4 linked regions of the Homo sapiens genome follow. The protein of the gene in region 2 interacts with the protein of the main gene of each other region in a biochemical or structural test. Each region holds a gene or a part of one and is shown on either strand. Other genes may lie near its edges. The genes, in order: SH2D1A, ERBB3, TNS3 and RNF41.

Region 1 (7,211 bases), on a different chromosome or scaffold from region 2:
TGACCAGTTGTGCCACCTTGAATAGGCTACCTAGGTTCTCTGGGTTTCAGTTTCTTTGTCGGTAAAATGAGACTAATAATAGTATTTGCTTCACAGGGTTGTTGATATAAATAAATGAGATAATACATTCAAAGTGCTTAGCAGGATGCCTGGAATATAGTATGCAGTTAACAAATATTAGCTGTTGCTATTATTCCGAGAATGAAACCTCAGAAGCATGCAGAGTTTCAGCTAGAATGAGGGAACTTCCTTTGAGTCACGAAGGAGGCAAAATTCGTGCAATAAAAAAAAAAAAACCTGTACACAGCAGACAGAAAGATAAAAACACTTTCCATCTCGAATAGATTGTGCGAGTTAGAATATAAGTTGAGTTAGATATGCCACTACTATGTCCCTAGAGCCCCATCCTTTCCTCTATCTCAGCTCTTGTTAAGTGAATTATAATTGTCTGTTTGCTTGTCTGTCTTCTTCACTGGACCTATGAGCTACTTAGGGGCAGATACTGTACTTTTCTGTAACCTAAGTACCTACTATAATGTCTGGCATATGGTAGATGCTCATAAGTGTTGGTTGAAATAATAAAAATATTTAAGACAGGCTTAAATAAACACACACAACAACCCTGTCTCTGGCTTCTCACTTAAAAAGGGCATTTAGAAAGATTGGCCTCATAGGTAAACCCAGAGATTATCAAAAGGAGGTGCTCTTTTGTAAAAAAAACAATTTTTTTCTTTAATCATTTTTGTAAAGGAAGTGAATTTTAGTAAGTGCTGAGAGAATGTGTAAACTCACCACAGGTAACACTGTCATAACACTGTCACAGGAGAATTCACACCTATAAATGAGCTAGTGGAAGAACAAAGTTAGTTTTGAAAGGTCAGAGAAAAAGATTTTGAAATGTCAGAGCCACTCTATAAAACTGACCACCCTTGGCATCATTCTTTTAATCTACCTGGGTTTGAGAATAGCCTAGGGCATTTGAAATGAAGACAATTAGCACCTCAGACAGGGCTTCCACATGCAAAATTCTGTCACCTCTCAGAGACCTCAGGAGTTGACAAGTTTGGTTAAGAAGATACTTTCAACCTTGGCTGGCAGTTTTTCTAAAATTTCAATGCTTTTATAATCTGATTTAAATGGCATCTATATTCTAAAAGGTTGTAACTGTGAAGCTCTCTTCCTCCATTCTATGATTTTCCCCCTTAAGTTATTGTAAAATGTCAAGAATGAAAATATTTCCTTTATTGAGGGAGATTGAGGAAACAGGTCTTTGTTCTTGTGCACAAATAAGTTCAATTCATTTCCCCTCTGTTTCTCTCTAAAACACATTTGGCTTTTGTTTAGAGAATAGAATGTTAAACCTAGACGTGACCTTAGGGGTCATCTGGTTCAATTCCATTTGACAGATGGAGAAAATGAGACTCAGAGAGAAGTGATTTAGTGGCAAAACATGGCATATATTTCAACTCTCCTACTTACTGGACTACTGCTCCTTCCAATTCATCTTGTCATTTCAAAGACGACCATAGGCATGTAGAACCAATATTGTGTGTGTGTGTGTGTGTGTGTGCGTGAGTGTAAAAGAGAATTTCAGTATTTTTTCTTTTATTGAGAGCATTAAGTTCATTCATTCATTCATTCACACAACAAATATATATAGCACCTACTACTTGCCAGACACAGGATACAGTGGTGAGCAAAGTACACAAAATCCCTCCATCATGGACCTTACATTCTAGTGGGGGACACAGACGATAAACCATTAATTAAATAATTCTGCTCCTAAGTGGTTTATACTTGTACTTGGGGTCCATTCTTCCTAACTCTTTCTCTGTTGGTGCCTCTACTATCTCCATTGCTCTCCTCTTTCATTTTCTCCCATTTCCTCTCGTGTGTATGGGGAGAGAAGGAAGAGAGTCATTTCAATTCCTCTTTTCTCTACGCTTCAAGCTCAGTGTGAAGTTTTGAATTTGCTAAAGTCAGGTTTAGTACTGGTGTAGGATTAGAGTGAAGATGTCAGTATTTTTCATCAACACTGCACTAGTGGGCTGGCTCGGCTGGCTCAGCTGTCAGCTTGCTTGTAAGATGACAATGAGGTACTGGATGTGAAAGTTGTACTATTACCTTATAATTTATCTGTTTTTTAGTGCAATTTTAGTTGTGCTGAACCCCGTCATACCTGGCTGCTTTGACAGGTGTGCTATTTTAGCAACATGGAACAAAACAGAGAAAGAAAAAAAGAGTGCATGGTACGCTTGTGCTGTCAGATCCAGGTTGCTCTGTTCCTAAGTTTATGGATGATTTGTTCAGAGTTGTTAAGAGACAAAAAAAGGTTAGGTTTTGTTTTCACTTATGTGACACTGAATGTTCTCACAGTTCACCTCACAGGTCAGCTGTTGCTCATATGGACTGATATAAAGGGATCCCTTTCCCTGTCTCCTTTCTATTTGAAATTCCACCATTTTGATTAATTCCTCTGGGCTAACCATTTGCCTGCTCAATATATGGAGAGCCCAAGGTGGACAACCTTTCAAATCCTTAATGTTGGAGTATGCATTCATATATCAGATTAATTTCTTCCTTGATCCAAAGCATGAAAAGGGGTAAGAGGTGGAGTTGGTCAAAAACATGTGAGGAAGGAAGATGATAAAATAATATTGGTCCCATTCCCCAGAGCCATCCCCAAATGTCACCTTGAATGCTTTAAAAAAAAATTCTTAATGCTGAAAATGACTAGTAGGAGACTTATGTTTATACTTTGCATACTAAGGCTGGACACTCTTCAATCAAGAAGAAAAGTTGCTACCAGCTACCACTGAAATCTTAGAGGATTGTTCTTAATCCTAGTAGATGAAGAGCAAATATCTGCCTTTGGTGCAAGTCAGCTCTGTACATCCAATCCATTGGTAAGACATGTGAGGAATTAAGTGTCGTTCTCGCTATTGAGTTCCCAGCCTTGCCATATTCTCAAAGAACTACACACTGAAGTTGCAGAAAGCATATAATAGACGACATAGCTTCAGTTATTTAAATTCAAATTTTAAAAGTACTTTACATAATCTAAAGGTACATGTACAAGACCATTCAGCTTCAGCAATAAATAAAGTCTTACTCTAGTGAAAATGCAGGAAGCTTTGCGGAAATATTACCTAGCACATTTTGAAATAGAAGCAATGTTTTATTTCAGAGAAGAAAATGAAGGTTGAAAGGTTTTAAAATATTAAAGACAGTTTAGCCTCAATCGAAGAAATAACATTTTCTAGAAACAACAGAGAATAAAAGTTACAACAAAATTATCAACAACTTGCAAATGATTCAAAACAGATTTTATGGACAAAATGCTGAAAGGTGGGCCCTGTACACCAAAGGGCACATACAAATCCACATAAAGGCAAAGCACCAGTTAAATGATTCACAGTCTCATCTAAAGCCCATCAAATAGATACATCTGGAACATCTTTGGATGTACATTGTGACTTTTGTATCTCAACTAGCACTTTGGGACCTTGGACAAGGTGTTAGGAAAGAAATCAATATTTGCTCAGGATCAAGACTTCTCAAGATGACTGCGTGAGGTAGAAGGAAGAGGGAGAAGAAGAACTTGCCCAGAGTTCACTGTTCATCTACTATGTCTGATTCTGTAGGAGTCTTCATGGCCATGTTCAGTAATGATTGCATACTGACAGTACTGATAAAACTATCAGTGTTTTGTTCTCAGAGCTCTTGGTCCTTTCATTTTGTCAGTGTGTTTTTGCCCTACGTAGTGGGTCCACATACCAACAGAGACATGTACAACTTGCCTCTATCATCAACTCCTTATGGGCTAGTTGAGCTAAGTTATTCCTGGTGGCCTCTGAGTAAACCGCAAGAACAGAAGCATTACTAAGCATCCCCGTCTGAGTGCAAGGGTGTGTGTTGGCAGTACAGCCCCAATCTTGCAAAATCCTTCTTCCAATGTTCCTCCCCTCTCTGTATGAACCCTGTGTTGGGGGGCAGAAGATGGAAGCCCTTGGCAAGCTCGATCGAACCAAGCTACTAAATTGCTGAGCTCGTTTTAACTGAAGTGTGAGAAGGAGGTTTAAGGCAAGTAGACAACATCCTGTTGTTGGGGTGCTTCTCTCTTTTTTGCACATCTGGCTGAACTGGGAGTCAGGTGGTTGACTTGTGCCTGGCTGCAGTAGCAGCGGCATCTCCCTTGCACAGTTCTCCTCCTCGGCCTGCCCAAGAGTCCACCAGGCCATGGACGCAGTGGCTGTGTATCATGGCAAAATCAGCAGGGAAACCGGCGAGAAGCTCCTGCTTGCCACTGGGCTGGATGGCAGCTATTTGCTGAGGGACAGCGAGAGCGTGCCAGGCGTGTACTGCCTATGTGTGCTGTGAGTATGATACGGTGGACATGGGCCTGCTGAGGGTGTGGGCGGTGGGCAACAGCAGCTGGGGCCAGGGTGGAGGCCGAGGCAGGCAGGGGCGCCGGCGTTAGCAGCTCGCCGACGCCTCCTCCGTGGCCCACCCTCAAGTCCAGCCCAGGGCCGTGGTGGAACACACTTTCGCCTCAATCCCTCGCTGGGGATTTCATTCCCTGGGCCTCCTGCTCTCCAGAAGGCCCTCACCAGAGCCTTTTGGGGCAGCTGCAGAGAATGCCATTTCGGGTGGTGAAATGTGGTCCACAGTTTACCTTCGCTCCGGGAAAGACCCAGGCTCCCCACTTCCATTTTGACCCCTATCGGGTGGCGCCCTGCGAGCCTTACTCTAGCTCTCTTTAAACGACTTTTGAAGTGTCATCCCAAAGGAAGAGCATGACATTCAGAGAGAGGAGGCACATTAAGAAACAGAGTCAATTACTTTAAGAATGCAATGCCAGTTAGGTCGAGATGCTGAGAGAGGAGGGGGATGTGTGTCAGTAAAATCACCTCTCTGGATCTGCTGATGTAGCATCCTTTAGAAAAGTAGTGGGGGGTGGGGAGGGGCAGGGGATTTCAGAAATAGGACCCTTCTTGATAAACGTTAGGACTCACAATAGTCTTAAAGGGAATGGAGGGAAAACACCCTTGTTATGATTCAGCTTTGCCATTTGCCTAGGCATGTCTCATTCTAAGGCTTCATTTTGAATCAAATTCATCTGCGTCTTTGCTCCAGGGCTCCGGAGTCAGGCAGATCTGAGACTTTGTCCTGTGCTCGTCAGATGTTAGGTTTGTGACTTGGGCAAATTAACCTCTCAGTTCCCCAGTTTTCTTATCCATTGAATAGGTATCATATTACTGCCTACCTCATAGGATTGTAAGATTAAGTGCCATAATGCAGTAAAAAAATTAGCACTGGGGCCTGACACCTAGTAAATGTTCAATAAATGTAAGCTATTGGTATTATTATTATACCAAAGATATATTATTATTTTATCTTCTCTTTTCAGTTGATTTCTTTTAGGAATCATGGGGGCATTTCTAAGGAAGGACCTAGCTCAGGCATTATTGTCAGCAGGATAAAAAAAAAAATCCATGAAAACAGCAGCCCTGCATTGTAGGTTCTAGACAGAAACCAAATGAGGTTAAATGCTTGGTAGTAAGTTCAGCATCTGATAATACCCCACAAGAGTTTGAAATACCTTATGGGTCAGTGAAGAAAGATTATCCTGATGCTGGTGCTAGAAGATTTTTCACTGTATATTGTTTTTTAAAAACGGTCAAGCCTTGTTTGTGGCAGCTCTCAGGTCATGCTAAATACATTTTTCACAAAGGCTTCAAGGGAAATACGTGGAAGCTATTGAATGTCTTGGGCTTGAATCTTTATGTTTTGCTTATATAATTATTGTTCCCGTGTGGAACCTAGGGAAGGGCAATGAAAACCAGCTAGGATTCTTAGGCTCTTTTCTCATTGAAAGAAGGTGGAGTGAGTGGGTGGGTGAAAGGCGCTGCTTTAGGGAAGCTGACAAAGGAGATAACATGCTCCTTAACCCAAAGGTGAAAAAGAATGTACAAAACAAGTCTGGGCAGGGGAGGGACAACAGGGTATAGTGAGAGGCAAGATATACCTAAGGCTTCAGCCTCACGGGGCTCCTGGCCGTTTCTCAAGCTCCTCAAAAATGCCCCCACTTAGGATTTCTGCGCTTATTGTTCCTTCTGCCCAAAATACCTTCAGTTCACATGTTTGTTCAACTGTCTCCTCCCTCAGAGAGGACTTGCTTGACCACCTATCTAGAACAAGTGCCCTCTCCCTGTCCCTGATACACTCACTCCATCTCTTTATTTTTCTTCAAAGAGCTTTAAACTATCTGATAATTTGCTTGTTTACCTACTTATTGCTGGGCTGTCCTGCAAAAATATAATCTCCATGAGGGCGGAGATACTGTCTCCATCACCAGAAACACAGGAACACATAATAGGCACTCAGCAGATATTTTTGAATTAACAAACTGTCAAGGCAAATTCTGTTCTTTACTGCAATAAACGGAATGGCCATTGAGAGGTTAGGGTATGGACTCTGGGAAAGTCACTCAAATTCTCTGGGACTCAGTTTCCATATTTATAAAACAGGAATAGTAATGTGTATCCTACCTTCTGCAAAAGATTGCCTTAAGTACCTTATGCAAGAGAGAAGGGCAGCTTTAGACTTTTGCCTATGTAGGCCGGAACCACATGAGGAATTAACTTAGGCAGGTGAGAAATTATCAAGCATTTAAGTTTTCGCCCAAAGTGAATCTTGCATAAATGCAGTTTTTATGACTCTTAGTTCTCCATGAAAACCTCCTTGTGAAGTAGCGGAAAATACTAGACAAATTGGGAGTTCCCTTACGGTGTCTTTCAAATGGTACACTGGGGCCTCAAAGTCTTATGTGACTGTTAGGGTGATAGCCAGAATGTGCTGCAGAGGGAAGATATGAGGATACATTGCCTTTTATCAGTTTCTCAATGTTTTTGAGTTGAGTGTCCCTTTTGATAAATGTAAAAATTTCATTCCCTCTTTTTGGTGCTACACTGTAATTATAAAATCAGATTTTATTTAGAAATAAACCACGTACTCATTTTAAACCAGAACACTTATGATATGCAGTCGAAATAACAATATAAGTGGTATCATATACACATGGACAACAAGGTATAGCTGACAAACATGCATTGATTGTAGGGTTTACTCAGAATGGTTTCTCATTCTATCTTTTGTTTACTCCTATTAACCAAGAAGATTTAATTGAGCTATAGTTTTTATATTTTTAT
Region 2 (7,062 bases):
ATTATAGGTGTGTGCCATCATGCCCGGCTAATTTTTGTATTTTTAGTAGAGACAGGGTTTCACCATGTAGGCCAGGCTGGTCTCGAACTCCTGACCTCAAGTGATCCACCCGCCCCAGCTTCCCAAAGTGTTGGGATTACAAGTGTGAGCCACCGCGTCTGGCCCCCCATACACTCTTTTACCCAGATCCTCCAAATGTTAACATACCACATATGGCCGGGCACAGTGGCTCATGCCTATAATCCCAGCACTTTGGGAGGCTGAGGCAGGTGGATCACTAGGTGTGGATCACGAGGTCAAGAGATTGAGACCATCCTGGCCAACATGGTGAAACCTCATCTCTACTAAAAATACAAAAATTAGCTGGGCGTGGTGGTGTGCGCCTGTAGTCCCAGTTACTCAGGAGGCTGAGGCAGGAGAATAGCTTGAACCTGGCAGGCAGAGGTTGCAGTGAGCCGAGATCGCGGCACTGCACTCCAGCCTGGTGAAAGAGCGAGACTCTGTCCCCCGCCAAAAAAAATACCACATACGCTTTATCACTTCTCTCTCTCTCTGTCTCTCTCTACACACACACACACACACACAAAACACATGCTATTGTTTTTCTGGACCACGTGAGGGTAAATTTTCACACATGGTTCTTTCTTACCCCTGTTATATTTCAGCGTATATTCCTTAAAAATAATATTTTCTTACATAACCACAGCATAGTTGTTTGAATCGGAAAATTAACATTAACACAAAATATTATCTAAGCTACAGACCTTATTCAGATTTCACTAATTGTCCTCCTAAGGTTTGGGATCATACATTACATTCAGTTATCGTGGCACTTCAATCTCCTTTATAACAGCTCCTCAGGTTTTGTTTATCTTTCATGATATTCTTGATGAGTATAGATTAGGTAATGGGCAGCATGTTCTTCAGTTTGGATTAGTTTGATGTGTCCTCATGATTAGATTCAAGTTTTTGTAGTTTTTTTTTGAGACAAGGTCTGGCTCTATTGCCCAGGCTGGAATACAGTGGCATGATCTCAGCTCACTGCAACCTCTGCCTCCCGTGCTCAAGCGAGCACCTCAGCCCCCTGAGTAGCTGGGATTACAGGTGCATGCCACCATGCTTGGCTAATTTTATATATATATATATATATATATATATATAAATAATATATATAAATATAAATATATATATATAAATAATATATATAAATATATATAAACATAAATATTATATACTATTTATATATTTATATATGTGTGTGTATATATATATATATTTTTTTTTTTTTTTGAGACGGAGTCTCGCTCTTGTTGCCCAGGCTGGAGTGCAGTGGCGTGATCTCAGCTCACGCAACCTCCACCTCTCAGGTTCAAGCCATTCTCTATAGAGACAGGGTTGCACCATGTTGTCCAGGATGGTCTCGAACTCATGAGCTCAAGTGATCCTCCTGTCTCAGCCTCCCAAAGTGCTGGGATTATAGGCATGCGCCGCTGCCAGGCTGGAGTTTGATAAGAACACCACAGAGGCTGTGAGCTCAGGGCATCCTATTGAGGATGTACGTGATGTTGATTTGTCCCAGCACTCACAATGATGTCTCTGGTCACTTAGTTAAGGTGATATCTGTCAGGTTTTTCTACTGTAAAGTTACTATTTTTCCATTCACAATTAATGAATGTCTTGGGATAATTGCCTGAATCAATTATTGTTATGATAGTTGCCAAATGATAATTTTCTAATTCCATTATTCCTTCTGCATTTGTTTGTTGGCATTCTACTGTTAGGAAGAGTCTTTCCAGCTGAGCACAGTGGCTTATGCCTGTAATCTCAGCCCTTTGGGAGCCAGTGGGAAAATTGCTTGGGCCCAGGAGTTCAAGGTTACAGTGAGCTATGATGGCACTACTGCTCTCCAGCCAGTGCACTCACTCTGCACAACAGAGTGAGACCCTGTCTCTTAAAAAAAAAAAAAAAAAAAGGCCAGGTGCAGTGGCTCATGCCTGTAATTCCAGCACTTTGGGAGGCCGAGGCGGGCGGATCACAAGGTCAGGAGTTCAAGACCAGCCTGGCCAGCATGGTGAAACCCTGTCTCTACTAAAAATACAAAAAATTAGCCAGGCATGGTGGTGTGCTCCTGTATTCCCAGCTACTTAGGAAGCTGAGGCAGGAGAATCACTTGAACCCAGGAGGTGGAGGTTGCAGTGAGCTGAGATTGCTGCCACTGTACTCCAGCCTGGGCGATAGAGCAAGACTCTGTCTCAAAAAAAAAAAAAAAAAAAAAAAAAAAAAAAGGTCTTCCTTTCCTATTTACTCTTATGGATACTTATTTTATTCTAGTCAATGGTTATAATCCTTTACAATCATTATTTATTTTAGCCAGCCCCTCCAAGTTGGCTCCTGTGTTCTTTGGGCTGTACCCTTAATTCTTTGAGTCTTGTCTTGTTTGCACAAGATGCTCTGGGCTTATATTATATTTCCCCCATCCCAGCCATTTCTCCAAGGAATGTTTCCTTTTAGTGGAGAATGATATTTAGAAACCAAATGCTGAGGCTGGGTGTGCTCATTGCCATTGAGTTATACCTTTACCTTATTGACTGGTTTCTACTGTTCTATTCAGAGACCCCTGGCACAAGATCCCTGCCCTGGACCCAGAGAAGCTCAATGTCTTCCGGACAGTACGGGAGATCACAGGTGAGTGGCAGAGAGTTTGCCCTTTCTAGAAGAATAGGTGAACCACTGGCATAAATTGCGGTATAACTACTTGAGAAAATCACGTCCCAAGTTATAGGGGAGGAGCCAGGAGAACCCAAGAAAGAAGAAGGCTCCCTGCCCATATGCCTCTCTCCAACCCCTCAGGTTACCTGAACATCCAGTCCTGGCCGCCCCACATGCACAACTTCAGTGTTTTTTCCAATTTGACAACCATTGGAGGCAGAAGCCTCTACAAGTGAGTAAAGGGTATGGAGGAAATGGCATCTTCAGGCAATGAAGCCTGTGTCATAGGCATTCTTTAGTAAAATACAAGGCACTGTCTCATACAGCAGTGCCTCAAAACCAAAGGGTTTCAGAGTTTCACGAGGAAAAGGCAAAAGGAGGGGGATTCCCTCTCAGTGGATCTGACTAGCACTGAGCAAATTTCTTGACTAACATGAATCCTTTGAATAGTTAATGTTCCCTTAGTAGTCTCTCCTCTCATCCTGTCTCCTTATTCTCAGCCGGGGCTTCTCATTGTTGATCATGAAGAACTTGAATGTCACATCTCTGGGCTTCCGATCCCTGAAGGAAATTAGTGCTGGGCGTATCTATATAAGTGCCAATAGGCAGCTCTGCTACCACCACTCTTTGAACTGGACCAAGGTGCTTCGGGGGCCTACGGAAGAGCGACTAGACATCAAGCATAATCGGCCGCGCAGAGACTGCGGTGAGGGAAAGGGTCTGCTAGGTGGTGAGAATAGGGAGTCAGGGAGGAGAGGGCTGAAAGGACTATTCTGCCCTAGACGTGGGAGTAGGGTTGAGGGATGGAACCAAGGAGAAGGGGGCTGTTAGGCTGGAAGCAGTAACGAGGAAGAATAATGAAGAGAGGGCTTGCTGGGAGTCCTCAGACTCCTCTCCTAACCCACCCCTTCCTTTCCAGTGGCAGAGGGCAAAGTGTGTGACCCACTGTGCTCCTCTGGGGGATGCTGGGGCCCAGGCCCTGGTCAGTGCTTGTCCTGTCGAAATTATAGCCGAGGAGGTGTCTGTGTGACCCACTGCAACTTTCTGAATGGGTACAGTAAGGGGAGCCAGTCAAGGATGGGTGGGGGTGGGGCCCTGCAATGGAACTGTTCAGGTGGCATACAATAAAAGTCTTTAGACAGCTTTCTGCATGTGCCTTGGTGGGATTGAGGTAGGAGACCTGTGGTTGTGAGATCGGAGCATGAAGGTCAGGACTTGGAAGTGACCCCCCCCTCCCTTTATTCCCCACTACAGGGAGCCTCGAGAATTTGCCCATGAGGCCGAATGCTTCTCCTGCCACCCGGAATGCCAACCCATGGAGGGCACTGCCACATGCAATGGCTCGGTATACTAGTAGCACCAGGATCTCCAAGGGAGACAGAGAAGGGGCAATACTTGGAGCATCTGGGGAATGATATGGCTAAGGATAGCACAGAGAGGCCAGATAATGCTAGGGCCTGCAGATAGAAGATCCTGAATGTCTGGGTTGGTCTTTGCTGGGAGGTATGGAATTGACCTTGGGATCTGATTCTTCCTGACCTTCTCTCTTCCACTCAGGGCTCTGATACTTGTGCTCAATGTGCCCATTTTCGAGATGGGCCCCACTGTGTGAGCAGCTGCCCCCATGGAGTCCTAGGTGCCAAGGGCCCAATCTACAAGTACCCAGATGTTCAGAATGAATGTCGGCCCTGCCATGAGAACTGCACCCAGGGGTCAGTGATGGGATAATAAGGAGAGGGGGTCAGGTGGAAGGGTAGGAGCACAGAACTAGAGTGAGGGAAGCAGAAAGAAGAGAGAGGCTGTGATTCAAGAATCACTCCCAGCTGGCCGGGCGCAGTGGCTCACACCTGTAATCCCAGCACTGTGGGAGGCCGAGGTGGGTGGATCACCTGAGGTCGGGAGTTCGAGACCAGCCTGACCAATATGGAGAAACCCTGTCTCTACCAAAAATTTAAAATTAGCCCGGCGTGGTGGCGCATGCCTGTAATCCCAGCTACGCGGGAGGCTGAGGCAGGAGAATTTCTTGAACCCAGGAGGCAGAGGTTGCGGTGAGCTGAGATTGCATCATTGTACTCCAGCCTGGGCAACAAGAGTGAAACTCTGTCTCAAAAAAAAAAAAAGAATCACTCCCAGCTGTGTAGCGAAGGATTGGAGAAAGGGAAAATCAGTAACAGCACAAAATTACACCACAGTTTTGGGAACCTGGAATAACCTCAGTTCAAGGGAGTTTCACAGAAGAGGGGCTTGGGGAGAGCTAGTGAGCTGGAGGTGGAGGCCATGTCTTGGGATCAGCTCTGGGCTCCAGGATGGGATGCCACGGTAAGTTCTGAAACAAGCTTTTATATGTTAGGCTGTTGAAATTGAGCCTCTGCTGTCCAAGCTCTCATTTAAGGTGGTGACTTTCTTCCCTAGGTGTAAAGGACCAGAGCTTCAAGACTGTTTAGGACAAACACTGGTGCTGATCGGGTATGATGGGGTTGGAGATTCTGGAAACTGGGGATATTTGGGAGTTGGGAGAGAGGTGGTTACCTGGAGAGAAGAGGGAGGCTGTCTTCATTCTGGCCTTTTATGTATGCAGTCCACTATCACTGGACACTTGGGACTCAAGAATGCAGGCTTCTGGACTTCCCTTCCTAAAATTAACTTTCAGTAGTCTAAGACTGGTCCAGATTTAGGTTGGTCCCTTCAGTGCTTAAGGATATATATGTGAATGTTAATTTCTTGCCCCAGGTCAGCATCATACCTTCAACACAAGTATAGTTGACATTTGTAAGGAAGATGCAAACCCAGGATAATGTTGGGTTTCTATATATCCCATAGCAAAACCCATCTGACAATGGCTTTGACAGTGATAGCAGGATTGGTAGTGATTTTCATGATGCTGGGCGGCACTTTTCTCTACTGGCGTGGGCGCCGGATTCAGAATAAAAGGGCTATGAGGCGATACTTGGAACGGGGTGAGGTGAGTACTTAGCTTACTTTTGTTTTTTCTTTTCTTTTTTTGCATGTCCTGGAAGTCTCTTTATAGCTTAATTTTGAGTGGTACCCTGTGCACCCAGGGGTCAGTGATGGGATAAATGTCACTCCCCTCCTCTTTCCCCAGAGATTTGATCCCTTTCTTCAAGGAAGTAGTGTGGTCCCCTAGAAGAACACTGGTCAGAGAAATGGGAGGCATGCATTCTAGTCCTGATTTTGCCATTAATTTGCCACATGACTTTGAAGAAGTTACTTATCTTCTCTGTGCCTCGGTTTATGCATCTATACAGAGGAAATAACATTTGTCCTTCCAGGATGGCTGTAAGGGTAAAGGGGGATGATGTATGTGAAAGTGCTTTGGAAAGCACAGAGCACTGTATAAAAGGTACTCAAGGTGGTAATAGTACTACCAACTCTCCCTAGCTGTCCCCTTCCCCACTTTGTGCTCCTCCATCAAAGGGAAAACCCAACCCCTTTGATTCCTGATCTCATGAGCACAAATAACTTCCTCAGTTCTCAGGGTCTGTACCTCAATATGCCTATAATCCATTCCAGGACTAACGGTGCTTCCTCTTCCTGCCCTTTCAGCTGTGCTGCTTTTGGCATTCACCTATGAGGAGCGGGTTGGAGTGGGACATGGGAATGGCCTTTCCTGAGTAACTCCTTCCCATTTGCTCCTCAGAGCATAGAGCCTCTGGACCCCAGTGAGAAGGCTAACAAAGTCTTGGCCAGAATCTTCAAAGAGACAGAGCTAAGGAAGCTTAAAGTGCTTGGCTCGGGTGTCTTTGGAACTGTGCACAAAGTGAGTGACCCATAGGAATTCTGGAGAGGTGGGGAAGGCATCTAGGGCAAAGGGGTGAAAGATTTTTGCATAGGATTGACCTAGGGAGAATGACCTTATGCCAACTCCTGCCCCAAACTTCCCAGGGAGTGTGGATCCCTGAGGGTGAATCAATCAAGATTCCAGTCTGCATTAAAGTCATTGAGGACAAGAGTGGACGGCAGAGTTTTCAAGCTGTGACAGATGTAAGTGAAGGAAATTCTGTATGCCGCTAGGAGAGAGGACAATATTAGATACAATCATGTAGAAGCAGGGTCCTGTGCTTCTCAGCAGCTACTATGTTAGCCAGAATGTTGGGGGTGGGGGGGCCTGGGCTGGCTGTGCACATGCTGAGTGTATGTGAACCTGTTGGTTTCCTAGATAATACCTTTTGTGTCTCTTAGCATATGCTGGCCATTGGCAGCCTGGACCATGCCCACATTGTAAGGCTGCTGGGACTATGCCCAGGGTCATCTCTGCAGCTTGTCACTCAATATTTGCCTCTGGGTTCTCTGCTGGATCATGTGAGACAACACCGGGGGGCACTGGGGCCACAG
Region 3 (7,011 bases), on a different chromosome or scaffold from region 2:
GGCAGAAAGAAAGAACTGTGTTCCATGTTGTGATGGTTTTTAATACTCTTGCTGTGAGGAAGAGAGTAACTAAGTTAATCAACCACCTACTTAATTAACCAACTAACCAGCATCCCTCATTCTAGATCAACAAGGATAGCAGCAGAGGATTCTAGGTAGACAGGACTGGCTCTAGGTCATTCCAGGCACAGCTTGCAGGGGTTAGCTGATTCCCCAGTGATTTCTGGGGTCCTACAGGAAGGACCCGGGGTCCCAGGGTCAGCTGACCTCCTGGAGAGCTTCAGACGCCCAGACCCACCCTTCCCATGATAGCTCCTGCTGCATGGGGCAAACCCACCAGATCAACCCGCAAGACAGGAGGCCCCTCCCTGGGAAATCTATGGGGGCCGCTGTGAGGAAGCCTCGAAGCCTCAATTCTAAGCGTGCTGCTGAGGCACTCAGCAAATGTCTCTGGCTTCCTAGTAAGTGGCAGGGATCTAAACAATGCTTTCTGCCCTCAGGAAGGTGGAAAGTTCCTCCCCCTCTCAAGTTCATACACAGGGACACAGGGAGGGAACAAGAGGCTTCCCCTGAACAGGGGTGGTTTACAACAGGCTGATCTTAAGAAAGGAATGGGGCACATAGAGTCAGAGAACTGGGCTCATTCAGATCCCTAACTGTTCCCAGACTTTAAGAATTTACTTGGTATTTTACTCATCTGTAAAATGGGTCCTTGTGTAGAGTCCTAAGCAGATATAAGCTGCGACTGCCAAATGGTAGGTCAGCCCTTCCACTCACTGTTCTTGCCATACTGCCTCCTCCTCAGGTCTCTGCTATCCCCTTCAGCAACACCTCCTGCAGTGGAAGAGCATACTTTGACACCCCCTCTCCTGCCCTTTATTTCCAGAGTCACATTTGCAAACAGCTCACTTTCAAAACATTAGGTGCCAAAGAGACACTTTGTTAAAAAAAAAAAAATCAATTTGCATTCAGGAATAAGTAGTGCCCTGGGGCTACTAGTTTTTCTATCTTGGTAGTTTTTTAAAGACATAATTCAGCTGAGCTGCTGATAGCTATGGCAGCCTCAGCTGAGGAATCGCTGTCTGGACATGCATTAGAATTCAGTCGACAGACGCGCAGCAGCAGCCAGGAACAGGGGTCTGGGACCCTAGAGTCCTGTCCCAGAATCCCAGGCTGCACTACCACCATGTTTCATTTCATCTCGGCCAAGTTACTTAGCCTTCCTTTGCCTCAGTTTACTCGTCTGTAAAATGGGGTAATCATAATCCCAACTCCCTCCAAGGAATGTAATTTGGGTGAAATGAAATGAATGCATGCAAAGCATTTAGCACAGGCAAACACTCAATCGGTATGCCTGTTACTTTGTCTTCGGGGTCACCATTACTATTCCTAAGGTCAGGAGTCGGGCTTGCTGCCAGTTCCTCCTGTCAATTCCCTGTGTACACACCCCCCACCCCCTGTGCTACCACACCCCCACCAGGACCCAGTGCACCTCCATCTCTGTGTAATGGCCTTGCCCCTCCACCCTCCAGCTGCAGCGACTCCCCACCCCCTCCCTGGCCCTCAAGGCCTCAGCACAGAAAAGCCTTTCTTAATACTTGTTGATTGATTTGCAAATATAACCTCACAGGCCCCAAAGAGAGAAGAACCAGAATCACCAGAACAAGTAAACCTCATTCAAAAGGGAAAGCATGAAAGCAATTTAAAAAATTAATATGCACAGACCAAAGCCTCAAGAAAATCTAAAATGTCAAAGGGTTGGTTAGTTCAGAAGGGCCATGCAATATTAATACAATGAGTTCTGCATTCATACTTTTCAGTATATTTTCAGAGTCCTCCATGATCATGCATTCAAATAGTGAAAAAAATGGGGGGAAAGCCAACCCGGAAGATCAAAGTGTGTGAATGCGCCCCAAGGAAGCCTGGGGGCTTCCCAGGGGGTTGTGACCACCCTCAGTAGTGCTCTCTGCTGGCCCCACACCCTGATGGCGCTTTGAGTTTTTCAACCACGCTGGAGTTCGGGTCATCTGCTGACACTGTCTGGAGAATGCCTGAGGAACGCCTGAATCTCTTCCCGCCACAGACACTCAAATCACTCCAAGCAAAGGACCCGGGACTCACATGTCAGGCCGCTGCACAGCACCGACACAGAGACCCCTGGGCCGTCCGGGACCCTCCCTCCTCCTGCTTGTCAGCGACAGCTCCCGCGTGCCAGGAGGCACATGCCACACAGCTGGCCCCCAGCCTGGGACAGCACCCCCCACCCCAGAATATCCCCCCACCCCGAGGTCCCGTCCTTCAGGGAAAAAAAGGAAGCGCGTAAAGACCCCCTGCCTCCCACCCACCAAAGGGAAAGGGAAAGAGACGCACTGGAGAGCTTGCCTAGAAAAAGTAGGAGAAGGGTCTTGAGCCTGCCCATTGAAGCCCCTAGCTGCGCTCTCCACCTGGAGTCTCGAGACGGAGTCCTAGGGAGCAAAGTCCGCTCGGTCCCGACAGCGACTGCGACATAGCTGCTCCGGTCTCTGCCCTCAGTCCAGGGCGCCCGGGCGCCACGGGTCCCACTCGAGTGGTCCTGCGCCCCAGCCAGTCCCCAAACCCAGCCAGTCAGCGCCCCCGTCCCCGGACTCCGGCGAAGCTGGCCCGCGCCCCAGCCCCTGTCCTGGGACTCCTGCCGAGCCCCCGCCCCCCACGCGCCGCAAACCCCGTACCCGCGCGCACCAAACCCCTTGCCCGTGCGCCCCCAACCGGGTCCCCGCGCTCCCTAACCTGGGTTCTCCCGTGACCCCATCCCCGCGCCCTGAGCTCCCGTACCCCGCGCTCCCCGAACTCTGTCTCCGCGCTCCCCGAACTCAGTCCCCGCGCCCCAGCTCCAGATCTCTGTGCTCCCCAAGCCTCGTTCCTGCGCCCGGAGCGCGAAAGCCCGCGCCGGGCCCGAAACAAAGAGGACCGCGGCGCGTGGCCGCGTTTCCTCCTTCCCCGGCCCCAGTACCTGGGGGAGCCTGAGGCGCGGTCCGGCAGGGCGATGGCCGCAACGAGGCTGGGCTCCGAGTAGCGCGCGGGCGGGCCCGTCCTCCTGGCTGGCTGCCGGCGCCCGCGGCAGGGCCCCCTCGAGGCGGCGCGGGCAATCGCCACGGCCGGCCCCCGCGCCCGCGCCCCGAGCCTGGCGGGTCACCTGGCCTCATCACCCTAACAATGCAGCGCGCCTCCAGGCGCCCTTCACCGGGGTCCCCCGCCCTGCCGAGGTGCGCCCTGGGACCTCCCTTCGCTGGCCGCAGAGAGGACCTGGAATTATCAGACCCATTGAGCAGCCCAGGCTCCAAGTGGTCTGGAGGCTTGCAGGTTCCGCCGGGCCGGTGTTAGAGTACCTGGGGAGGCGGGTTCGGATCCTGGTTCCTGCACAACCAGTTCATTCTTTCATTCAGCGCCTGTGATTAAGGTGCTCTCCGGGAGCAAGACCTACCCTCCCTCCTGTAGCTCATAGCCTAGTGGGAGTCGCGCATACATAAAGGAGCACAGCCGCTCCGGAAAGCCTAGGGTGCCGTAGAAGCCCCTGAAATACCCAGCTAATGAAGGGAGGAGGTCAGGGAAGTCTTTAGAAGTCACATGACTTCTTAAAATGCGCCGGGACAAATGAGCAGAATTTAGGCAAGCCAGGGGAAACCAGAAAAACGATCCCGAGCAGAGAGATTCTCAGAGGAGGAAAGGCCTATAGGTTGTCCATCCTGACTGTCCATCCCTGAGATTCAGATGGCCCTGAACTCAGTCGCTTAGCCTCAGTTTCCCCATTTGTGAGATCGGGGGAATGGAAAAAGTTTGCAGAAATCAGAAGTGCTCTTCCTCCAGGGAGGTCACAAGAGAAATTTCATCAGCGGTTTGTCCTGTGGTCCTTTCCAGGAAAACATCCTCCCCGCCAGCCTCTCACAGAAGAGACCTAGATTTCATCTGCCACGTGGAGCAGGCGGTCTCAGAATCCCACCCGGAGCAGGGTCCAGGGCAAGTCTTGGAGGACAGTCACCAAGAACTGCTTTGGATTCGGGAACAGAGCTGCCTAACCCATCCGCAGCCCTGGGGTCCTGCCCTGTTCCTCTGGCCCCTTCAGGGCAGCGGGGGAAGCAGGGAAAACAGCCTGTCAGAGATGGCAGAGAAACCGAGCAAGAATAATTATCCTGGAAAAGACTTTCAGAAGTAACCACCAGAAACTTCGAGTCCCCAGATCCAAACAGCTGAGAATGTGGGGCCTGAGCCACGCTCTGACTCCACTCCCACCACATGAGGAGAAACAAGAGCTGCTTTTCTGGAAGACTTGAACAACCCCTGCTGTGCTCTGGAAGGTAGTGTCATTTCTCATCCCCAGACTGATCTGGGTATTTATTCCCAGGCAAAGGCTTCATGAGCACCATGCCCCAGCCCCTAGAGATGAGGCAGGCATTTTTCCTACACTCTAGGAGACACCAGGTCAAGAGTCAATGAGATGAGTCAAGGGGTGCCAGGGAAGATGCCATAGGGGAAGGTGGGGAGGAGGTCACAGCCAGCTGGGTTAGGAATGGGGGTGAGGCTGGTACTGTTACGATCTCCTTTGTCCTGATAAGGAAACAGGATCTGACATTCTAGGCAACTTGTTCAAGGTCACCCACCTGGTCAGGCGAAGAAAGTGGGAGGGATCAGGACTATCTGGCCTTGAGGCTACTCTTAACTTCTTCCCAGCTGCCTGCCCACACCATCCACTCTGTGCAATTGGACTAAATCATCACTTTGCTCAACCCTCTCTTCCATTAAGACCGTGGTGATCTTCACACCCAGAGCCAATTACGTGCTATTCTGTGCATCACAGAAACCATCATAATGCCAAAAACCATGTTGGCTGAATGACAACATGAATTTGAGCTTCTTGCAGTGTTAGGGCACCCATTTACAGGAGGTGACACTGTTGTTTGTCTGAGAGCTCACAGTCAGGAAAACTCAGTGCAGTGCTGGGGTTCTCTGACCCTTTGTCAGGGAGCCTCTTCTAAAATCTCTCCAAACTGCTACCCACACCCAAGCCAGATGGCCCCACCGGCCACACTGCCCTTGTTGGGGTAGCAATGGAATGGGATGCCCCAACCACACCTTTGTTTCTAGAAAAACTGTGACTTGGGTGCTCATTCGTGCAGTGTCTGTGGTTATATTCCCTGGCAGTGTCCCAAGAAAGGAGAAGAAAAACCGGGCTCCAGTATCCCCACGCACTCTGTGTTGGCTGGGATGGCTGTTCCCCGGGTTCCCCACACCTCGTCTAGAGGCACATGAAGGGAAGCCTCTCTGGATCCCCAATCGGGACCTGGGCCCCTTCCAGAGCTTCGCTTCCCCAGCCCAGGGCCTCCCCACTTCGCAGGCTGCAACTTCAAGTTTCCAAGAAATTAAACAAAAACAGGGCATGAACCAGTATCTGAAAAAGGGAATGTGCATTTTTTCCATCCTTAGCCATCCAAAAAAAACTCAACTTTGAAAACAAAAGTCTCCAACATTTAGCTGAAAAAAAAAAAAAGCAGCAATATGCCAAGAGTGGCCTCTCCCTCCTAGTATGCCAAGCAGAGGGCAGGGGAGTCTGGGCAAGAAACTCCCGCCAATCTCCTTCCTCCCTGAGCCCTTCTTTGCAGACTCATTCTTGCTCCTCCCCTGTAGGAGTTTTAGAAGATGTGTTGGAAGCTTGTCATTGCAATGAAGATTGTCTTTGCCACCGCAAAAATCTGAATTTGTATCCCTAGATCAAGGGAGGTATATGAGCAAGGACTTGGATATTTTTCCTTATTTCTTACTTTCTGTCACTGAAAATATTTCCCAAAGACCAACTGAAAGAGACAGCAGGAAACATTACACAGGATGGAGTTACAAAGCTCTACAGCGCATTCAGAGAACTGTGGAGTTGGAACATGAGCAAATGCCTGTGTTTTGCCTTAAGATACTGAGTCTCGGCCGGGCGCAGTGGCTCACACCTATAATCCCAGCACTTTGGGAGGCCGAGGAGGGCAGATCACAAGGTCAAGAGATCGAGACCATCCTGGCCAATATGGTGAAACCCCGTCTCTACTAAAAATACAAAAATTAGCTGGGAGTGGTGGCACGCACCTGTAGTTTCAGCTACTCAGGAGGCTGAGACAGGAGAATCGCTTGAACCCAGGAGGCGGAGGTTGCAGTGAGCTGAGATCGCACCACTGCACTGCAGTCTGGGTGACAGAGCAAGACTCTGTCTCAAAAAAAAAAAAAAAAAGATACTAAGTCCCTTGAGACTCTTACTAGAACACCTGGCCCTTTCCTCTCTTCCTTTTTCTCTTCCCAAACACACGAATCCTCACCTACAGCTCAACAAAGTGGGCTTTACAGTTGCCAGGCCTGGCTAGAGGCACCTGAGCTTTTCCGTGTCTCAGAACCTTTTCGGAATTTACATAACCTTGGTGTTTGTGATGGCTCATGTCAGATGTCAACTTGATTGGGCTAAGGGTTGCCCAGATAGCTGGTAAAATGTGATTTCTGGGTGTGTGGGTAGCGTGTTTCTGGAAGAGCTTAGCGTTTGAATGGGTAGACTGAGTAAAGCAAATCCATCCTCACCAGTGTGGGTGGGCACCATCCAGTCCTTCAAGGGCCCAAGTAGAACAAAAAGGCAGAAAAAGGGTGAGTTCTTCCTCTTCCTTCTTGAGCTGGAACATTCATTTTCTCTTGCCCTCAAATATCAGTGCTCCTGGTTTTCAGGCCTTTGGACTCAGACTGGCAATTACACCACCAACTTTCCTGGGTCTTCAGTTTGCAGACATAGTTGTGTGAGCCATAATTGTGTGAGCCAATTCCTATAATAAATTTCTTCTAGGCCAGGTGCAGTGGCTCACGCCTGTAATCCCAGCAATTTGGGAGGCCGAGGCGGGCAGATCACGAGGTCAGGAGATCGAGACCATCCTGGCTAACACGGTAAAACCCTGTCTCTACTAAAAAATACAAAACAAAAAAAAAATTAGCCAGGCGTGGTGGCAGGAGCCTGTAGTC
Region 4 (7,972 bases), 130 kb from region 2:
AGAATCACTTGAACCCAGGAGGCAGAGGTTGAAGTGAGCCGAGGTCACACCATTGCACTCCAGCCTGGGTGACAGAGACTCCATCTCAAAAAAAAAAAAATTAGCCGGGCATGGTGGCAGGTGCCTGTAATCCTAGTTACTTGGGAGGCTGAGGCAGGAGAATCACTTGAACCTGGGAGGCGGAGGTTGCAGTGAGCCGAGATCACGCCATTGCACTCCAGCCTGGTTGACAAGAGCGAGACTTCGTCTCAAAAAAAAAAAAAAAAAAAAAAAAAGGGGTCTGGGAGAATTGGGTGAAGGAGGATACACTGAGAAAAGAGAGATTTGGAAAAGGAATGAGGGAAATGCATCTTTCTAGGCTGAGGAGAGTGGGAGAGCTAGGAGGACCAGTGGATAGAAGGGAACAGATTTACCTGGAGAGGCAGCAGAGGGTCCAGTGGTAGGCTGGGAAGCTGAAGGGTTGCTGTCGTTCTGCACCTGAAGGCACAGATTACATATTCAGATCCTGCTCCCTCCCATGCTTCTTGTCTTGATCTGCCCTCCTTTCCCACCATTGTGGCCACAGGACTCACCGCCTTGTTGGGTGCCTGCTGGGTGCTGTACTCTGGGTTTGGCTCACTGAAGTTAGGAACCTCAGAATAAACCATACAGAATCTGCAAGGGAAGAAAGTAGCTAAAGCCTTGAATTCATCCTCTGGGCCACTGCTGGAGGCCTCAGAAAAGTCCAGATAGGTTCGGTGTGGTCACTCACACCTGTAATCCTAGCACTTTGGGAGGCAGAAGCGGGAGGATCACTTCAGCCCAGGAGTTTGGGACCAGCCTGGGCAACATGGCGAAACCCCATCCCTATAAAAAATACAAAAAAATTAGCTGGGTGTGGTGAAGCACGCCTGTAGTCTCAGCTACTTGGGAGGCTGATGTGGGAGGATCACCTGACCCCGGGAGGTCAAGGCTACAGTGAGCCCAGATCATGCCACTGTACTCCAGCCTGAGCGACAGAGACTGTTTCTCAAAACAAACAAACAAACAAACAGAAAAAGTCCAGAAATGAGGCTTGGACTGCACACCCTATGCTGCCTCCTTGCAAACCCCTTTGCCCTGGTGCTTCTTCATCCCAATCCCCAAGACAGCACTTACTCTCCAATCTTCTGCAGATCACCCCCACGGCCAGTATATAGTGTCAGACAACCTTTGAAAACTGAAGCGTACCTATGGGAGGCAAAAAAAGCAAAATTCAGTACTCAGAAGTGTTATAGGGACTGTTAACCCCACTCTTGATTGTTGTTGCCTTTGGAAGGCCAGAAGTCACCAGCTGACTTACCCTTTGGTGAGCCGGATAATGTCCCCAGGCTGGATCAGATTGCCAACATCGTCCCAGACAGAGATATTGATGCTGCCTGTTTTGTCCGCCACTTTGCAGGTCCGAACCTCATGCCCGTCCTTTGTCTTGGTCACTCGGCCTGAACGGAACAGATAAATCGAGGTGGGAGGATGGTCAAATAAATGGAGTGGTATCTCTCAGAAGGATGAGATGTGGATATTGGTGGAATGAGGGAAAAGGTGTACAAACAGGGGAAAGCCCAAATCCCTGGGGCATAAAGGGTTGGGATTGTGGAAGGGGTGGTGGAGGGTGGAGGTGGGAGTTCAGGGGCCAGCACCATGGAGAGGGCCCTGAGTGGAAAGAGGCCCGCGTCGCACAGGAGGTCTAGATCTGGCAAGAGTTCTATCTACCCTATACCTGACTGCAACTTTCTGTCCCAGGGTCGAAGAGATTGGGAGTGAGGAGTGTCTTGCAGCTTGCCTTGCCATCCCCATAGCAAGTTAAGAACGCAGACAGCGTTCTTCCCCTCCTGCCCCCGACCCCCATCCCGCGAACCCGCCACCCCAGTATAGACACCTGTCTCCAGCACAATGAAGATAAGGTTCAGATTCTTGAGCCCAGGCTTGATATCCTTCACAAAGGTCTCCGTCGTCATGCTGCCTGAGCCTCGGCACCCCACTGGATGGGGAATAGAGGATGAAGGCTCAATGCTTGGATCCTTTGCCCCCATGCTCCACTTCCCAAGGCCTACCTACCCCATTAGGCTGGGGTCAGGCAGCCTCAACCCCTCTAACCCTTCTAAAAGATTAAAAAAGAACATCCCCGGAGGCCTCCAACTTCAGGATCAGAATTTGGGGGTCTCTGGACAGGCTGCTTTGGGGCTGGAAGGCCCCCTGCCGGGATGCTCTTTTAGTCTCAAGCCGCGAAGTGGCGGAGCCGACGTAGACAGGGGTAGGGAACCCGGTGCACAGCCAGGGAGTAGAATCTTACTGGCCAGATCTTCCGGAACCCTCATCCCGACAAGCCGGGACTCGGTCCATCCCCTCCCCTACCCGCAGCCCACCACCCACCCAAGCCAGCCGGCAGGACTGTGCACGCCGCTGAGCAGCCCGCAGGGGGAGCCACAGGCTCCGCTGCCGCCGGATGCTGCCCCGTGGAACGCGGGAGTGCGGACATTCCCGGAAGTTTCCCCCGGCTGGCCTCCTCCGGCCAATCAGCACCGCCCGGGCGCGCCCTGCGTCCCGCCGCCTGCCCTGCCCAGCCAATCGGGATCAGAGACTCGTGCGCCGCGAAGGGGGCGAATTTCAGGTATTAAAGGAACCTTGGAGATAGTTGGCTCTGTAGGGGGAAAAATCCACCACTAGAAGGCGCACAGGGCCCCCAGTTTTCCTTAACTTGGCTAGGGAGAATGCACTTAGGTTCTAAGACGTTTCTTTCCAAAGAGTGACACAATGGGAAAAGGAGCAAGGGCTTCGGAATCTGGCGGACAAAAGTTTGAATCCTGGCTCAATGCTTCACTTCATTTCTCGACTATTTAAACATATGTAATTCCAATTCCGCAAGGCGCGGTGGCTCACGCCTGTAATCCCAGCACGTAGGGAGGCATAGGCTGGAGGATAGCATGAGTCCAGGAGTTCCAGACCTGCCTGGGCAATATAACGAGACCCCATTCTCCACAAAAAGGGAAAAAAAGACAAAAAATATGTAATTCCATCTTACGAGAAAACGGAAGTTATATTTAAAAAAGTGCCTTGCACACAGTAGGCACACACGGTTTCCTCCCTTTTTATTGCTCTAACCGTTATCTTTGTTCCTGATTTGGGGTTCTCATCTTTAATGCACTACCCAGCTTGGTCAAGGTCTCTGGGAAAAGTGGCATTTACACCAGAGACAAAAGGCAGGCTCACCCTTCTTGGAAGAAATGGAACCTGCGACAAAGAGAGAAACATTGTTAGTCCCTTTTTTTTTTTTTTTTGAAACAGGGTCTCGCTGTGTAACCCAGGCTGGAGTGTAGTGGTGCAATCTTGGCTTACTGCAACCTCCCACCACAGCCTCCGTAGTAGCTGGTACTACAGGTTCGCACTACCACCCTCGGCTAATTTCTGTATTTTTTTTGTAGAGACAGTTTCGCCATGTTTCCCAGGCTGGTCTCGGACTCATGACCTCAAGGGATCCGCCCACCTCGTCCTCCCAAAGTGCTAGGATTACAGGCGTGAGCCGCTGCACCTGGCCATACTACTCTTCCCCGCCCCGCCCCACCGCTCCACCCCGGCAAAGGAGTCTTGCTCTGTCGCCCAGGTTGGAGTGCAGTGGCGCGATCTCGGCTCACTGCAATGCAACCTCTGCCTCCCGGGTTCAAGCGATTCTCCTGTCTCAGCCTCCCGAGTAGCTGGGATTACAGGCGCCCGCCACCACGCCCGGCTACTTTTTTTGTATTTTTAGTAGAGACGGGGTTTCACCACGTTGGCCAGCCTGGGCTCAAACTCCTGACCTCGTGATCCACCAGCCTCGGTCTCCCAAAGTGTTGGGATTAAAGGCATGAACCACCGCGCCCGGCCATACTACTCTTATCTTACTTATCTCAGAGTCCCGCTAGAAGACAGCAGAAAGGAGGCCTGAAACTTTAGTTCCTTTTGGGACCTGTCAAATTGTCCACAAAAGGTAGCTAGCTCTGTATTGTTGTGTATAAACAAATTACATAAAGATATGTGTGTATGTGTGTATTAATGTGCATTAGCATTTGCTTAGCCAATGTCCACAATAAATACCATACTATTTAATACCAGATTAGTCTAGGAAGTCATGTGATTGTAATGCCTTGGTTTGCTTAATTAATCCCTTATCTGCTCACGGAGCTCTTTAGGCTCCACATTGACTTCCCTTGGATCCCACGTTCTCTACCGCCCACATCCCCAACACCACGGTGTTGTAAGCTAAGGAAATCAAACCCCAACTCAGGAAGAGGGAAATTTTTTCTCCCTTCCTTCCTCTTAGGTGTTTCAGGGAACTCCACAAGTGTTCGGGGAGCCATCGTGGATACGGCAGGAGAGCGCCTGGGAGAGAGGCAGACAACCCGTTGAGCACCCCAGATCTAAGCTTTGCGGTCAGACTCCCTCACTCCCCACCCCGCGGCCGCCTTGTTAACTGCAATATCCATTCCCATGACAGGAGTCAAGGGGTTACGAAGCTCTGGGATGCTGACCAGGGCTCTGGAAAAGGGAGAGGGGCCGGACCCGCAGCAGGTCACGCTGCAGGCCTGCCTCTCCGCAATGATCTCGCAACAATCTGCGTCAGCTCTAAGACACAAGTCACCTGCACCCCTCCAAAGCGAAGCGTGGCCGGCCAGGCCCACACGTTTTTGCCGGGAAGAACATAGAGTTCTCCCTCCTAAATGGCTACATAGTCCTGGCTGGGACCATATAGACTCTAGACTAGACTTCCTGTCTAGAGTGGAGGCCTGGCCAGCCTTCGTCCCTCCTCGTAGGCAGCTCCTGGCTGCTGGTGTAGGGGCTGAGTTAAACAAAGAGGCGGGGTTTGGTGACGAGCTTCCGCCGGGTTGCGTAGCAGCGGTGGGCGGGGCAAAGGATCCGTCTGAGGCGGCGACGAGTGGTAGGAGTCTTCTTTCCCCTCCTTCCCCTTTCCCTTCCCTTCCCGGGAGAGGCTGGGACCCGGCACCAGGGCAGTACTGTGGCCGCTGCGGCCTCAGCTCCGACTGGGTCAGGTTGCGGAGACTCCAGGCCGCTTCCAGGGCGGTGCGTACTGCGCCTGCGCGATCTTCCACCTAAAAGAGGGTGTGGGAGGGGAGGAGGTGATGTCCCAGGGGTATTGGGGCGGGGGGTTGAAATAACTGGGGTTCAGGAGGAGGGATGGTGGTAGAGATAAAAATGTGAGAAGGGAGCAGCACTGGCGAGGAGTCGGGAGGTGAGAAGGGGGCTCTGGAGAACGGGTTGTTGGGGAAGGTCCATTGGAATAGGGGAGCTTTGAGAAGTGCGGGAGGGGGCCGGGGCTAGCTGGAGGACCGGCACCTGCAGAACTGGGGGAACAGCGTGGTGTTTAAATGGGCAATGATTGACGGGCCAGAAGGGGAGGAAGGGAGCATTCCGGGGGCCAGCCTGGGCAGGGGCGGTGGAACCTAAACCCCCGCCCTCGAAGCGCCATAGCTTGGCTCCTCTCCCATGCCTTGTCGTTGGCAGCCTTGTCCTCTCATTCCTTCCCCGCTCCTCACCCCCTCCCAGCCCTCCATGAAGGAATCTCACATTCTTCACATCCCTGCGCTTGGTTTGCAGCCTGGCTCTCTGGCAGGGTTCACACACCACACACTGGAAGGCCTTCCCTAACTCAGGACTTTGGGAAATTGGGTAGTGGGGAGGAGGGGGCTAGAGGAAGAGCAGAAAGCCAGGAGGGGTGAAGGCGTTTTGCTTGAGGGATTGACAGACTGCTTCCCCGTTCAGAAACTTCATTTCATTTAATAGCAAGTGGGGCTGTTATTGAGGCCACTGTTCTTGGGGACTGGCCCGTGATAGTGTTATCCCTTTCTATACAGGGGTTTTAGAGTCTGACAATAGGGCAAGAGACTGATAGTGTTGTTGGCTGATAGTTTTGCCCCAAATAAGAATGTAGTGGACTAGTGGTAGGGAATGTGAGTGATGCAATGTTAAGCCGACCGACCTGTGGCTAGCCCTGCCTTCTAGTAAAAAGAAGGAACAAGCTTTTGTCAAGCATTTCCTCTCCGACTCTCAGTACTCTAAATTTATTTTGCATTCTTGTTTTTTTTTTTTTTTGAAACGGAGTCTCACTCTGTCACCCACGCTGGAGTGCAGTGGCACAATCTCGGCTCAGTGCCACCTCTTTCTGGGTTCAAGCGATTCTCCTGCCTCAGCCTCTTGAATAGCTGGGATTACAGGTACCTGCCACCATGCCTGGCTAATTTTTTGTATTTTTAGTTGAGATGGGGTTTCACCATGTTGGCCAGGCTGGTCTCAAACCTCTGACTGTAGCCGGGCGCGGTGGCTCACGCCTGTAATCCTAGCACTTTGGGAGGACGAGGCGGGCGGATTGCCTGAGCTCAAAAGTTCGAGACCAGCCTGGGCAACACAGTGAAACCCCGTCTCTACTAAAAATATAAAAAATTAGCCGGGGCATGGCTGCATGCACCTGTAGTCCCAGCTACTTGGGAAGCTGAGGCAGGAGAATTGCTTGAACCCAGGAGGCAGAGGTTGCAGTGAGCTGAGATTCCACCACTGAACTCCAACCTGGGCAACAGAGTGAGACTCTGTCTCCCCACACCCCCCGCCAAAAAAAACAAAACAAAACCCTGACCTCAGGTGATTGGTCCATCTCGGCTTCCCAAAGTGCTAGGATTACAGGCATGAGCCACTGCACCCAGCCTTATTTTGTATTCTGTTGCTACAAATAATCTTACTTGAGGATAACAGTATTCAGTATCCTTTCATATTTATTTATTTATTTATTTATTTATTTATTTATTTATTTTTGAGACAGGGTCTCACTCTGTCACCCAGGCCGGAGTGCGGTGCTGCGATCTCTGCTCACTGCAACCTCTGCCTCCTCGGCTCAGTTGACCTTCCCCCTTCAGCCTCCTCAGTAGCCGGGACTACAGGCACTCACGCCATCATGCCCGGCTAATTTTTGTATTTTTTGTAGAGACAAGGTTTCACTATGTTGCCCAGGCTGGTCTCAAACTCTTGGACTCAGGTGATCCACTCACTTCGGCCTCCCAAAGTGCTGGGATTACGGGTGTGAGCCACTGCGTCCAGCCTCCTTTCGTATTTATTATTTCATTTGATTTGCAGACAGTATGTATAAGGGGTGCGCGCGTGTATATACACATATATACACACACACACATATATACACCTTATATTACGCCGGGCGCAGTGGCTCACGCCTGTAATCCCAGCACTTTGGGAGGCCAAAGGTGGTGGATCATATGAGGCCAGTTTGAGACCAGCCTGGCCAACATGTTGAAACCCTGTCTCTACTAAAATATAAAAATTGGCTGGGCGCGGTGGCTCACGCCTGTAATCCCAGCACTTTGGGAGGCCGAGGCAGGCAGATCACGAGGTCAGGAGATCAAGATCATCCTGGCTAACGTGGTGAAACCCTGTCTCTACTAAAAATAAAAAAAAAAAATTAGCTGGGCGTCCTGGCGGGCGCCTGTAGTCCCAGCTACTTGGGAGGCTGGGGCAGGAGAATGGTGTGAACCTGGGAGGCGGAACTTGTAGTGAGCCGAGATCGCATCACTGCACTCCAGCCTGGGTGACAGAGCCAGACTCCGTCTCAAAAAAAAAATAAATAAATAAATAAATAAAATAAAAATTAGCCTGGCATGGTGACACATGCCTGTGATCCCAGCTACTCAGGAGGCTGAGGCAGGAGAATTGTTTGAACCTGGGAAGTGGAGGTTGGAGTGAGCTGAGGAGATTGCATCACTGCACTCCATCCTGAGCGACAGAGGAAGACTCCATCTCAAAAAAAAAAAGAAAAATAGGCCAAGCATGGTGGCTCACGCCTATAATCCCAGCACTTTGGGAGGCCGAGGCGGGCGGATCACAAGGTCAGGAGATTGAGACCATCCTGGCCAACATGGTGAAACCCCGTCTCTACTAAAAATACAAAAATTAGCTCAGC

Evidence for each region.
Region 1: the proteins of ERBB3 (region 2) and SH2D1A form a complex in vitro, tested with the Homo sapiens proteins (2 studies listed by BioGRID and IntAct, with this or other methods).
Region 3: the proteins of ERBB3 (region 2) and TNS3 form a complex in vitro, tested with the Homo sapiens proteins (2 studies listed by BioGRID and IntAct, with this or other methods).
Region 4: the proteins of ERBB3 (region 2) and RNF41 form a complex in vitro, tested with the Homo sapiens proteins (2 studies listed by BioGRID).

What each region holds. Positions count from the first base shown.
Region 1 is NC_000023.11:124,342,404-124,349,614, forward strand, and holds the start of SH2D1A (SH2 domain-containing protein 1A), read left to right. Parts: upstream 1-4,159; 5' UTR 4,160-4,239; coding exon 4,240-4,376; intron 4,377-7,211.
Region 2 is NC_000012.12:56,090,136-56,097,197, forward strand, and holds part of ERBB3 (receptor tyrosine-protein kinase erbB-3 isoform 1 precursor), read left to right. Parts: intron 1-2,611; coding exon 2,612-2,685; intron 2,686-2,850; coding exon 2,851-2,941; intron 2,942-3,209; coding exon 3,210-3,415; intron 3,416-3,628; coding exon 3,629-3,761; intron 3,762-3,963; coding exon 3,964-4,054; intron 4,055-4,266; coding exon 4,267-4,421; intron 4,422-5,121; coding exon 5,122-5,175; intron 5,176-5,529; coding exon 5,530-5,671; intron 5,672-6,367; coding exon 6,368-6,487; intron 6,488-6,612; coding exon 6,613-6,711; intron 6,712-6,909; coding exon 6,910-7,062. UniProt on the Homo sapiens protein: Tyrosine-protein kinase that plays an essential role as cell surface receptor for neuregulins.
Region 3 is NC_000007.14:47,579,062-47,586,072, forward strand, and holds the start of TNS3 (tensin-3), read right to left. Parts: upstream 3,051-7,011; 5' UTR 2,990-3,050; exon of another isoform or gene 2,812-2,989; intron 2,638-2,811; exon of another isoform or gene 2,445-2,637; intron 835-2,444; exon of another isoform or gene 790-834; coding exon of another isoform or gene 778-789; intron 1-777. UniProt on the Homo sapiens protein: May act as a protein phosphatase and/or a lipid phosphatase. Involved in the dissociation of the integrin-tensin-actin complex. EGF activates TNS4 and down-regulates TNS3 which results in capping the tail of ITGB1.
Region 4 is NC_000012.12:56,218,861-56,226,832, reverse strand, and holds the start of RNF41 (E3 ubiquitin-protein ligase NRDP1), read left to right. Parts: upstream 1-4,910; 5' UTR 4,911-5,073; intron 5,074-5,131; exon of another isoform or gene 5,132-5,242; intron 5,243-7,972. Other genes in the region: NABP2 (SOSS complex subunit B1), read right to left, coding at 414-477, 573-654, 1,138-1,209, 1,322-1,460, 1,898-2,051. UniProt on the Homo sapiens protein: Acts as E3 ubiquitin-protein ligase and regulates the degradation of target proteins. Polyubiquitinates MYD88. Negatively regulates MYD88-dependent production of pro-inflammatory cytokines.